3 linked regions of the Homo sapiens genome follow. The gene in region 1 interacts genetically with each later gene. Each region holds a gene or a part of one and is shown in the gene's direction. Other genes may lie near its edges. The genes, in order: MAP3K4, ATM and TOP2A.

Region 1 (3,654 bases):
ATGATTAGTTGTTTTCCTTTGGGTAGATACTCAGTAGTGGGATTGCTGGATCAAATGGTAGTTCTACTTTTAGTTTTTAGGTTTTTTTAGTTTTTTTTGAGACAGAGTCTTTCTCTGTTGCCCAGGCTGGAGTGCAGTGGCGTGATCTCAGCTCGCTGCAACCTCTGCCTCCCGAGTTCGAGCAATTCTCCTGCCTCAGCCTCCCGGGTAGCTGGGATTATAGGTGCCTGCCACCAGGTCCAGCTCATTTTTGTATTTTTAGTAGAGACAAGGTTTCACCAAGTTGGTCAGGCTTGTCTTGAACTCCTGACCTCGTGATCCGCCCATCTTGGCCTCCCAAAGTGTTGGGATTACAGGCGTGAGCCACTGCGCCTGGCCAGTTTTTTAAGGAATCTCCATATTGTTTTCCACAGTAGTTGTACTAGTTTACATTCCCACCAGCAGTGTATAAGAGTTCCCTTCTCACCACATCCATGCCATTGTCTATTTTTTTAATTATTATTTTTAAATTATGGCCATTCTTGCAGGAGTAAGGTGGTATCTCATTGTGGTTTTAATTTGCATTTCCCTGATAATTAGTGATGTTGAGCATTTTTTCTTATGTTTGTTGAAAATGTGTGAAATGCCACCTTTTAATACATTGGAAACCAATAATGTGATAATTTATGCTACCAGGTTAACTGGTTTTGCCACAGACTAGAATAAAACTCTGTTTGCCATCTTTGTCACATACTTTATGTCTGTGTGTCATTGATTAGGAAGGTTGTGTTAATGCACAGGCCTTTTGTAGAATTCAGGCCTGTACATGTTGGCCTCCAAAGCTGTGCAGCAAGTGTGCCATCGTGGCAGGTGCAGCCAGCCCAGCACATCTGCCTAGTGTGTGCTTTCCTCCTGACCCAAGAGTGTTATGCAGTGACCCAGCAACACAAAACAGGCAGAGAGGTCATAGTACTCTATTCCAGTTTTATTGCTTGCTGTCAGTTGTGGATACTTTTGTCCTTATTTTTGATAAAGAATTCATGATAAGGATAGCTGTTGTTATTGTTAGTGATTAAATTTTGAAATAAACATTGCTTATCATTTCTTTTTCAAGCTTCTGGGGCAGTTTTAGGAGGATCCTGAGGTGACTAGGAGAGCTATTAAAACTAATTTGGAACAATTTACCTTTGTGACTTATTGGATCTGTACACCTAAAACACAGAATAAATTGGATATTAAGGCTGATATAATGCTCTTGTTTACTATAACCTTTCATTTAAAATATTTATATTAAAAATAGCCTCATTGTTCTCATTGTCCTTATGAGTACATGCTGCATAAATTTAACAATTAACTTTTTTTAAAAAATGAATTATTTACTTTATATATTTATTGTAAATTCATTTGAAAAACTGGATTTCCTACTAAAAAACTAGTTGAATGTCGTCACTCCTAGGCAATTTGCTCTGCCTCTCGGCTTGAATGTCCACCTTGAGCCTGTGTGTTTCAGTCTTGACCTTGTATGTCAACTGTTCTCCCTGGCAAAGTCAGCCTCCTGTGGTGCTCCAGACTGTTGGTGTAGCATCAGTGATGGTCATGCCTTTACACCACTGTAACAGTAGATGCCATTGGCGGGGGTGGCGTTAGGCAGAGAGGAGTCACCAAACAGCAGTGATGGCAGAAACTTCATGTTTTCAACTGGGGACTTGTCACTTAGGAGGACTTTGTAGTTCCCTTTAATTTTCTGTCATTGTTAGAGGCCACTCTGTTTCCTTCATGTATGCTCTCATGGTGTCCTGCAAATCTTGTTCTGAGCTCTGCTGAAATACGGGGATATAAAGGTCTTGCCTGCTCACTGGATACATTTGTTGTAATAACTTCCTGTTATTTAATAATTCCTCATTCCTCATGACTATGATTTTACTCATAGCATTCTATTGTCTCAGCCTTGTCATTTGACCAGGTAGTATGTATGCTGTTTGAAGACTCTTTAACGTTGCCTATCAGTAGGCTACTGGTAGTGGTTTCTTTAAAGAGAAAATGGAAAACGTGAGAGAAGGAGATTAGCTGAAGACTCCGTAGGTCTTCATAAGCTGGCACTCCCTTGGCACGATAATCAAGGCCCAGACACTCACTGTGCTTGGCTTCTCAGGCACAGATACTCAGCTTTGTCTGTACACCTGGTTAGTCAGTGTATTCTCTTGCTTGTAGAAAGCCAAAGTATAATTAAGAGATTGATTAGTAAGCATGATATTAGCAAGGGAAATGAGTTGAATGATCCCGGTGACTCATGTTAGCAGACCAGTGAGGTGGGCTTGCATCCCTAGCAGGTGCACCCCTGCTTCTGAATGAGAGGCAGTGTGATCCAGACTTACTCTTAGGTTTTTATTTTCTAGGCATCACACAGGCTGCTTTTTTCCCTTGTGTCACAAACTTTCCTAAATTGTTTGGGTTATAGTATGTTTGTTTTAATCTTCAGTCTTTATAACAAACCTTGCTTTTCCTGCTTTAATTTGGGAGTATATTTTATCCTTCTCACTTTAAGATTTCTTTTTTTAAACCTCAGTGGTACGGTACATTTTTACTAATGGTGAGTCTCAGAGGATCACCTTATTGTCTCCATCCCCCACCCAGTATTCTCCCCATAATCTCTGTCCCACCACCCCTCGCCAAGAATCCTTTAGCATAGTTTCTCAGAACAATGTGGCAAAGATGTCAGTGGTTGGTGCTTTCATAAAATTCTTTTTGAATATTGTGTTCAAAAAGGATCATGATGGTATCTGGCTTTTCTGGATTTAAGTCATAAAATTAAATTTTAAAAAATCAGAACCACATCAGAATTCTATCCAGTTATTAAAAACTGTTTTTAAATAGTGTTTAGTGACATGTGAAGATGCTCATGATACAACTCCTTTTGGGGTGGTACCTGAGTAGCTCTTCTTAAGAAGATTCTCAAGTATTTCTGATGTATACATACTCACCGCTGTGTTCAGCAAGAACAAACAGACTATGAAACAGAATTTGCAGAAGATGGGAGCCAAAATTTGAGGTAGTTTTTCATCTCATACACATATTTGTCCACCGGCTGTGTCTGCCCTACTTCACTGTCTTCCTTCTACCTTATTTGGGGGAATTCCTCTCTTGACTCAAACTACATGGTACATATTGGAGCTGCCCTCTTCTTACAGATGCCAGGCCATAGGCATGACACTTGACCCAGTCCAGGCCAATTAGGATTCTTTCCTGGGATTTTTCAAATTGGAGCTGGGAGAGAGAAACGCGCATTTTACTGAAGTATAGGCTGAGAATTCATGAGCCTAGAGCTAGCTTCCTGAAGCTCCTACAGAGGACCTGGTCTCAGAGAGTGATGTTAATCCCCAGAGAAAAGCAGAGAGGCTGAAAGAGGTCTATGGCCAGTTGCCTTTAAAATAAATAAATAAATAAAAATAAATAAAGAGATGGCAGTCTCTGTATGTTACCCAGGCTGGATTCAAACTTCTGGTCTCAAAGAATTCTTTTGCCTTGGCCTCCCAAGTAGGTGGTACTACAGGTGCGCACCACCACACTGTCAGCCAGTTGCCCTTTTGTGCTAGATTTGTCCCTATTTTTCTCCTGATTTGATGTGAGCTAATCTCTATTTGTGCTTAAACTATTAATTTGAGTTAAACTTCTTAA
Region 2 (3,654 bases), on another chromosome or scaffold:
TTTTCCCCGTACATGAAGGGCAGTTGGGTACAGTCATGGTAATGCATTATATTTTAAGATTTTGCCTTTCTTATACAGAACAATCCCAGCCTAAAACTTACATACACAGAATGTCTGAGGGTTTGTGGCAACTGGTTAGCAGAAACGTGCTTAGAAAATCCTGCGGTCATCATGCAGACCTATCTAGAAAAGGTAAGATTTTTGGAGCAACCCTTAAGATAGTTACTTAGCATGAATATGCTTCATCTTTTCATCAAGATCAATATATTTCCAAAGCAAATAAAAGTATGGTTTTATTTTTCTATATATTATTACTGTTGTAGCTCTGTATAGTCTCTAGGGTGGAGTGAAACATTGTTACAAAACAAAGCAGCCAATTTTGAAAGTAAGCCCAAGTATAGTATCTCTTCTTCCTCCTTCCTACCTCCACTACCAGCTACCCTTTCAGCAGGTTGCTTCTGATCATTTCTTCATTTATGCATCTACAAAAATAACTGATTAAGAATAGGCAAGTCAGCCCTTGCTCTTCATTAGCCCAGCCACCCACAAGTAAAGGCTTCAATATACTAGCCCCTTTGACTTTCCTGTTTCTCCCTCTTATTCCTTTAGATTCACTAATTTTGGAAATAGTTACCTCACTAAATAAGTGTAACATGAAACACATGATGCGATTGTCTTTCTTTTCTTTTCTTTTCTTTGAGATGAAGTCTCTCTCTGTCGCCCAAGCTGGAGTGCAGTGGCGCAATCTCGGCTCACTGCAACCTCTGCCTCCTGGGTTCAAGCGATTCTCCTGCCTCAGCTTCCCAAGTAGCTGGGACTACAGGAGTGTGCCACCACACCCGGCTAATATTTTTTATTTTTAGTAGAGACGGTTTCGCCACATTGGCCAGTCTGGTCTCGAACTCCTGACCTCAAGTGATCCACCTGCCTCGGCCTCCCAAAGTGCTGGCATTACAGGCTTGAGCCACCACACCCAGCCTGATTGTCTTTAAATTTTATAAAGTTCTCTGTTTTTGCAGAGTTCTTTACAAGTATTAGCTGTCTGGGTTATTTCTACACTGTCAAAGTTGTTTTGAAAAGTCAAGAAAATACCATAGTTCAGGGCTGTCCAATCTTTTGGCTTCCCTGGGCCACATTGCAAGAAGAATTGCCTTGGGCCACACATAAAATATACTAACATTAATGATAGCTAATGAGCTTAAAAAAAATCACAAAAGAAATCTCATAATGTTTTAAGAAAATGTACGAATTTGTGTTGGGCCACATTCAAAGCCGTCCTGGGCCACATGCGGCCCATGGGCCGTGGGTTGGACAAGTTTGCAATAGTTCATATAATTTAGCTAGCTTTTATATGTATATAAGTTAAATTTTAGTGTATTACCTTAATTTGAGTGATTCTTTAGATGTATTTAGTATTTGTAAATATAATTTAAATTGGTTGTGTTTTCTTGAAGGCAGTAGAAGTTGCTGGAAATTATGATGGAGAAAGTAGTGATGAGCTAAGAAATGGAAAAATGAAGGCATTTCTCTCATTAGCCCGGTTTTCAGATACTCAATACCAAAGAATTGAAAACTACATGAAATCATCGGAATTTGAAAACAAGCAAGCTCTCCTGAAAAGAGCCAAAGAGGAAGTAGGTCTCCTTAGGGAACATAAAATTCAGACAAACAGGTAACTAGGTTTCTACAAGTGACAATTTTATGTTCACCAGTTAACTGAGTGAGTGTTTTTGCATAGAAAGAGTGACTTGGTCTTTTTATCTGATATAGTTTTGAGCTCTAAAGGTCGGCTTAACTATATATAGATTATCTTGGTCTTTTGGGTTCTTTTCGGTTTTTGTTTTTTGTTTTTTTTTTTGAGACAAGGTCTCACTCTGTCACCCAGGCTGGAGTACAGTGGCGTGATCACTGTACTCCAGCTCACTGCAACCTCGACCTCCTGGACTCAATTGATTCTCCCCCTGAGCCCCCGAAATAGCTGGGGCTACAGGTGCACGCCATACCTGGCTAATTTTTGTATTTTTTGTAGAGATGGGGTTTTGCCATGTTGCCCAGGTTGGTCTCAAACTCATGGGCTCAAACGATCTGCCCACCTTGGCCGCCCAAAGTGCTGGGATTACAGGTGTGAGGCACTGTGCCCTGTCTGTCTTGGTCCTACTGTAGTTAATCACAAATTAGTATGTAAGATATTGACGTGTTCTTTTGTGAATAATTCATGCTCTGCTTCTAAGTTCATTGTGGAGAATATAGATATTAGCTTTCTGTTTTGCTTTTTTGGTTTGTTTGTTGGTATCATAGTGGAAAAGGAGATAGATATTGAAATTAATTACAAAAGTTACCTATTTTGATGTAATTAAATCCCTTTATTTAAGCCTGTCTTGAATCTGTATATTTTAGTGTAAGCAGAGGTGTAAGTTAGCTAAATAGCTTGGGGAGAGTCCCCTTTGTCCTTTGATGCTTAGGAAGGTGTGTGAATTGCACAGTTAAGACAAAAGTAAGTTTATTCCCTTTATAATCCTTAGAAGTTTGCTTTTTTCCCTGGGATAAAAACCCAACTTTTTTCATTAAATGTTGTATATCATGTGTGATTTTGTAGTTCTGTTAAAGTTCATGGCTTTTGTGTTTTACCTTAATTATTCTATGCAAGATACACAGTAAAGGTTCAGCGAGAGCTGGAGTTGGATGAATTAGCCCTGCGTGCACTGAAAGAGGATCGTAAACGCTTCTTATGTAAAGCAGTTGAAAATTATATCAACTGCTTATTAAGTGGAGAAGAACATGATATGTGGGTATTCCGACTTTGTTCCCTCTGGCTTGAAAATTCTGGAGTTTCTGAAGTCAATGGCATGATGAAGGCAAGTGTTACTCAGCCCAATATTCTACCCTGTGCTTGAAAAACTTAGACATAAGCCCCTTGATGTCAGGAATCGTGTATACCTCTTTGTATTCCTAGCACTTGGTCCAGTGCTCTACACATAAGTAGCATTTTGTAGTTTTCTAAACTTTGATCCATATTTAGGATTATTTACAAGTTCTAGTCTTGTTTCTACAAAAGTTCCTTTGTATTATATAAGCTGACAAGCTGTAAATGATGCAAGTTTGTGTGGAGGTGATAGAATTTAGCTTGGTCCTATGTCTTTGCAGTTACCATAGGAGAGGGTCTAGAATGGGGCATTAGATTGGAGGATTTAGAAAGCAGTTAAAGATGATGTGATCACAGGTGGGTTTTCCCCCTGCTGCAGAAATATGGGATTTTTACAATAAATTACTTTTGTAAGTAGAGAAAATATATTTTTCAGAAAATGTCAAGACAGCAGTATTGTATAAGTTTTTCTTTGAAAACCTTAGATTATAGTGATGACACCTAATATTAAATTTAAGTTGACAAGCTATATATTGTTAGTCAATTTGAAGGTTAGAGATAAAATGTTTCTCCTGCAGGAAAATAATAAGACTCATAATAGATACAGTCAATCTCTGCTGTAGTATACACTAAATATTACTTTTGGCCTATGGGGAAAAGCAATTACTTCATTTTATTGTACACTGACTTCTCAGGAATCAAGATCACAGTCACACTCAGATCACATTTGTCTTCCTTAGATTTTTTGGAATATAAACAGTACCAAGTATTCTAGTTCTGAATCCAGTTTA
Region 3 (3,654 bases), on another chromosome or scaffold:
TTTCCCTCTTAGAGGAAAAATACTCAATGTTCGAGAAGCTTCTCATAAGCAGGTAGAATATAAGACGATCTTCAGAATCTAAATCTAATTTATAATACAAGACTTTATGCTTATATTTAATTCCCTCATTAGGCATTTTAAAATATATTTTAGACAATTTGTGCTTATTTTGAGAAATTAGGTACATTGTAGCCTATTTTAACAGACCTTTCTGATGTAGTAAATTATAAGCTAATAGCTCAAAATACTGGAGCTCAAGAAAATCCAAGCAACATATACTGTTAAATTTCTTTGTTCTTTTCAAATTTATAAACGATGCTTTTTTTGGTATATGTCCATTTCAGATCATGGAAAATGCTGAGATTAACAATATCATCAAGATTGTGGGTCTTCAGTACAAGAAAAACTATGAAGATGAAGATTCATTGAAGACGCTTCGTTATGGGAAGATAATGATTATGACAGATCAGGTCAGATTTGTTATTAAATTTTTAGATTGTTCAACTAAATTAAGCATGTCTTAATTTAATTTCATTGTTTTTTGCCATGAAAATAAATTAGTTAAATAGGAGCTTTATTCATCATCTCTAATCAACATCTAATCAGATATGCTTATATCATATGTATGTTGCAAATACAGGTTAAGTGAGTCTGGATTTGAACAGACCTTTTTTGATTCCCATAGAAAATTTGACAAATTGCCAGTAGGTCAGTCATAATATTTTTTTATTTCTAAACAATTCTTTGTTTGTTTGAGATGGAGTTTCGCCCTTGTCGCCCAGGCTGGAGTGCAATGGTGCAATCTTGGCTCACTGCAACCTCCGCCTCATGGGTTCAAGCGATTCTCCTGCCTCAGCCTCCCGAGTAGCTGGGATTGCAGGCGGATGCCACCACACCCAACTAATTTTTGTATTTTTAGTGGAGACAGGGTTTCACCATGTTGGCCAGGCTGGTCTCGAACGCCTGACCTCAGGCGATCCGCCTGCCTCGGCCTCCCAAAGTTCTGGGATTACAGATGTTAGCTACCACGCCCAGCCTAACAGTTCTTTTGAACTTTGGCTTTCAAATCTTTCTAGGACCAAGATGGTTCCCACATCAAAGGCTTGCTGATTAATTTTATCCATCACAACTGGCCCTCTCTTCTGCGACATCGTTTTCTGGAGGAATTTATCACTCCCATTGTAAAGGTACGCTAATTTCTAAGTACCATCATGGATATTTTAAGACCCTACTCCTCAAACCTGGATATACATATAAGCCCCGTCACATGTAGTGGTATACAGGGGACCCCACAGTGTACAAAGCCACAGTCATTGTTTTTTATCACAGGTATCTAAAAACAAGCAAGAAATGGCATTTTACAGCCTTCCTGAATTTGAAGAGTGGAAGAGTTCTACTCCAAATCATAAAAAATGGAAAGTCAAATATTACAAAGGTTTGTAATGAAACCCATATAGAACTTCTCATTTTATTATACACCCTGTACAAGACTATATGAAGGAACTTGGTATTTTTGGTTTTATAGGTTTGGGCACCAGCACATCAAAGGAAGCTAAAGAATACTTTGCAGATATGAAAAGACATCGTATCCAGTTCAAATATTCTGGTCCTGAAGATGATGCTGCTATCAGCCTGGTAGGTTTGAGTTGTATTTTATATACATTCTAATTTTAGAAATCACTACTTTAGCCAGTTGAAACATTTACATTTTTGTATAAGACTCCGTATCAAAAAAAAAAGAATGTTTTATAGAATAGAATGTTTCCAGTAAGCATATCCCAGAGAAGGAATCAGATATTTTAGAAAATTTTGATTTTTGGCTGGGCTTGGTGGCTCATGCCTATAATTCTAGGACTTTGGGAGGCCAAGGCAGGTGGATCACCTGAGATCAAGAGTTGGAGACCAACCTGTCCAACATGGTGAAACCCCCTCTCTACTAAAAATACGAAAATTGGCCGAGCGTAGTGGCTCACGCCTGTAATCCCAGCACTTTGGGAGGCAGAGGCGAGCAGATCACAAGGTCAGGAGATCAAGACCATCCTGGCTAACAAGGTGAAACCCCATCTCTGCTAAAAATACAAAAAATTAGCCGGCCGTGGTGGCACGCAGCTATAGTCCCAGCTACTTGGGAAGCTGAGGCAGGAGAATCGCTTGAACCCGAGAGGCAGAGGTTGCAGTGAGCCGAGATCAGGCCACTGCTCTCCAGCCTGGGCAACAGAGTGAGACTCCATCTCAAAAAAAAAGGAAAAAGGCCAGGCGTGGTGGCTCACGCCTGTAATGCCAGTACTTTGGAAGGCTAAGTCGGGCAGATCACAACGTCATGAGATGGAGACCATCCTGGCTAACACGGTGAAACCCCGTCTCTACTAAAAATAAAAAAAAATAAAAAATAAAAAATTAGCCGGGCTTGGTGACACGCGCCTGTAATCCCAGCTACTCCGGAGGCTGAGGCAGGAGAATGGCGTGAACCCAGGAGGCGGAGCTTGCAGTGAGCTGAGATGGTGCCACTGCACTCCAGCCTGGGCGACAGAGCGAGACTCTGTCTCAAAAAAAAAAAAAAACAAAAAAGGTCGGGCGCAGTGGCTCACACCAGTAATCATAGCACTTTGGGAGGCCGAGGCGGGTGGATCACCTGAGCTCGGGAGTTCAAGACCAGCCTGACCAACATGGTGAAACCCCATCTCTACTAAAAATACAAAATATTAGCTGGGTGTGGTGGCACGTGCCTGTAATCCCAGCTACACGGGAGGCTGAGGCAGGAGAATCACTTGAACTTGGGAAGTGGAGGTTGTGGGAGCCGAAATCGTGCCATCACATTCCACAAGAGTGAAACTCCATTTCAAAAAAAAAAAAATACAAAAATTAGCTGGGCGTGGTGGCGGGCGCCTTTAATCCCAGGGGCTCAGGAGGCTGAGGCAGGAGAATCGCTTGAACCTAGGACGCAGAGGTTGCAGTGAGCCAAGATGACACCATTGCACTCCAGGCTGGGCAAGAGAACAGTAACTCCCGTCTCAAAAAAAAAAAAAAAGGAAAACAGTATTTTTGTTTTTCTGTTGTTCGTTCTTTGTAGAAGGATATTTTGGAACCTATTAGCCTATTAGTACCAGTGACATCTTTTCATCCTTTAATTTATAGGCCTTTAGCAAAAAACAGATAGATGATCGAAAGGAATGGTTAACTAATTTCATGGAGGATAGAAGACAACGAAAGTTACTTGGGCTTCCTGAGGTAAAAGTTTTAAATATATGCCACAAAATGGATTGTTAGACTGACCTTTTGGTATTGATACTATAGCAAATTAAACTTACTGAATAGTTATTTTAGTAAAAAATTTGATATGATAGAGTTGTGCAGCAGTTAAATTTGCTTTATCTTTAAAACATATAAAATATTTCTGTATTATTCAATATTTTTTAAAGACTTAAGAATTACAGAAATAATTCTTAGTTCTGAAAGGTTTCTGTTTGATTTTTGTGTTGAGCATTGTTTAGACCGGTAGACTCATGTAATACTATTTGGTCCTTCAGGATTACTTGTATGGACAAACTACCACATATCTGACATATAATGACTTCATCAACAAGGAACTTATCTTGTTCTCAAATTCTGATAACGAGAGATCTATCCCTTCTATGGTGGATGGTGAGTTCCAAT

The links.
Region 2: changes in MAP3K4 (region 1) and ATM together harm fitness more than expected from each alone (negative genetic interaction), as found in Homo sapiens cells (one large-scale study listed by BioGRID).
Region 3: changes in MAP3K4 (region 1) and TOP2A are lethal when combined (synthetic lethality), as found in Homo sapiens cells (one large-scale study listed by BioGRID).

What each region holds. Positions count from the first base shown.
Region 1 is NC_000006.12:160,994,621-160,998,274, forward strand, and holds part of MAP3K4 (mitogen-activated protein kinase kinase kinase 4), read left to right. Parts: intron 1-3,654. UniProt on the Homo sapiens protein: Component of a protein kinase signal transduction cascade. Activates the CSBP2, P38 and JNK MAPK pathways, but not the ERK pathway. Specifically phosphorylates and activates MAP2K4 and MAP2K6.
Region 2 is NC_000011.10:108,327,567-108,331,220, forward strand, and holds part of ATM (serine-protein kinase ATM), read left to right. Parts: intron 1-78; coding exon 79-192; intron 193-1,454; coding exon 1,455-1,672; intron 1,673-2,647; coding exon 2,648-2,855; intron 2,856-3,632; exon of another isoform or gene 3,633-3,654.
Region 3 is NC_000017.11:40,404,365-40,408,018, reverse strand, and holds part of TOP2A (DNA topoisomerase 2-alpha), read left to right. Parts: coding exon 1-52; intron 53-344; coding exon 345-470; intron 471-1,076; coding exon 1,077-1,187; intron 1,188-1,329; coding exon 1,330-1,435; intron 1,436-1,525; coding exon 1,526-1,635; intron 1,636-3,135; coding exon 3,136-3,228; intron 3,229-3,527; coding exon 3,528-3,642; intron 3,643-3,654. UniProt on the Homo sapiens protein: Key decatenating enzyme that alters DNA topology by binding to two double-stranded DNA molecules, generating a double-stranded break in one of the strands, passing the intact strand through the broken strand, and religating the broken strand.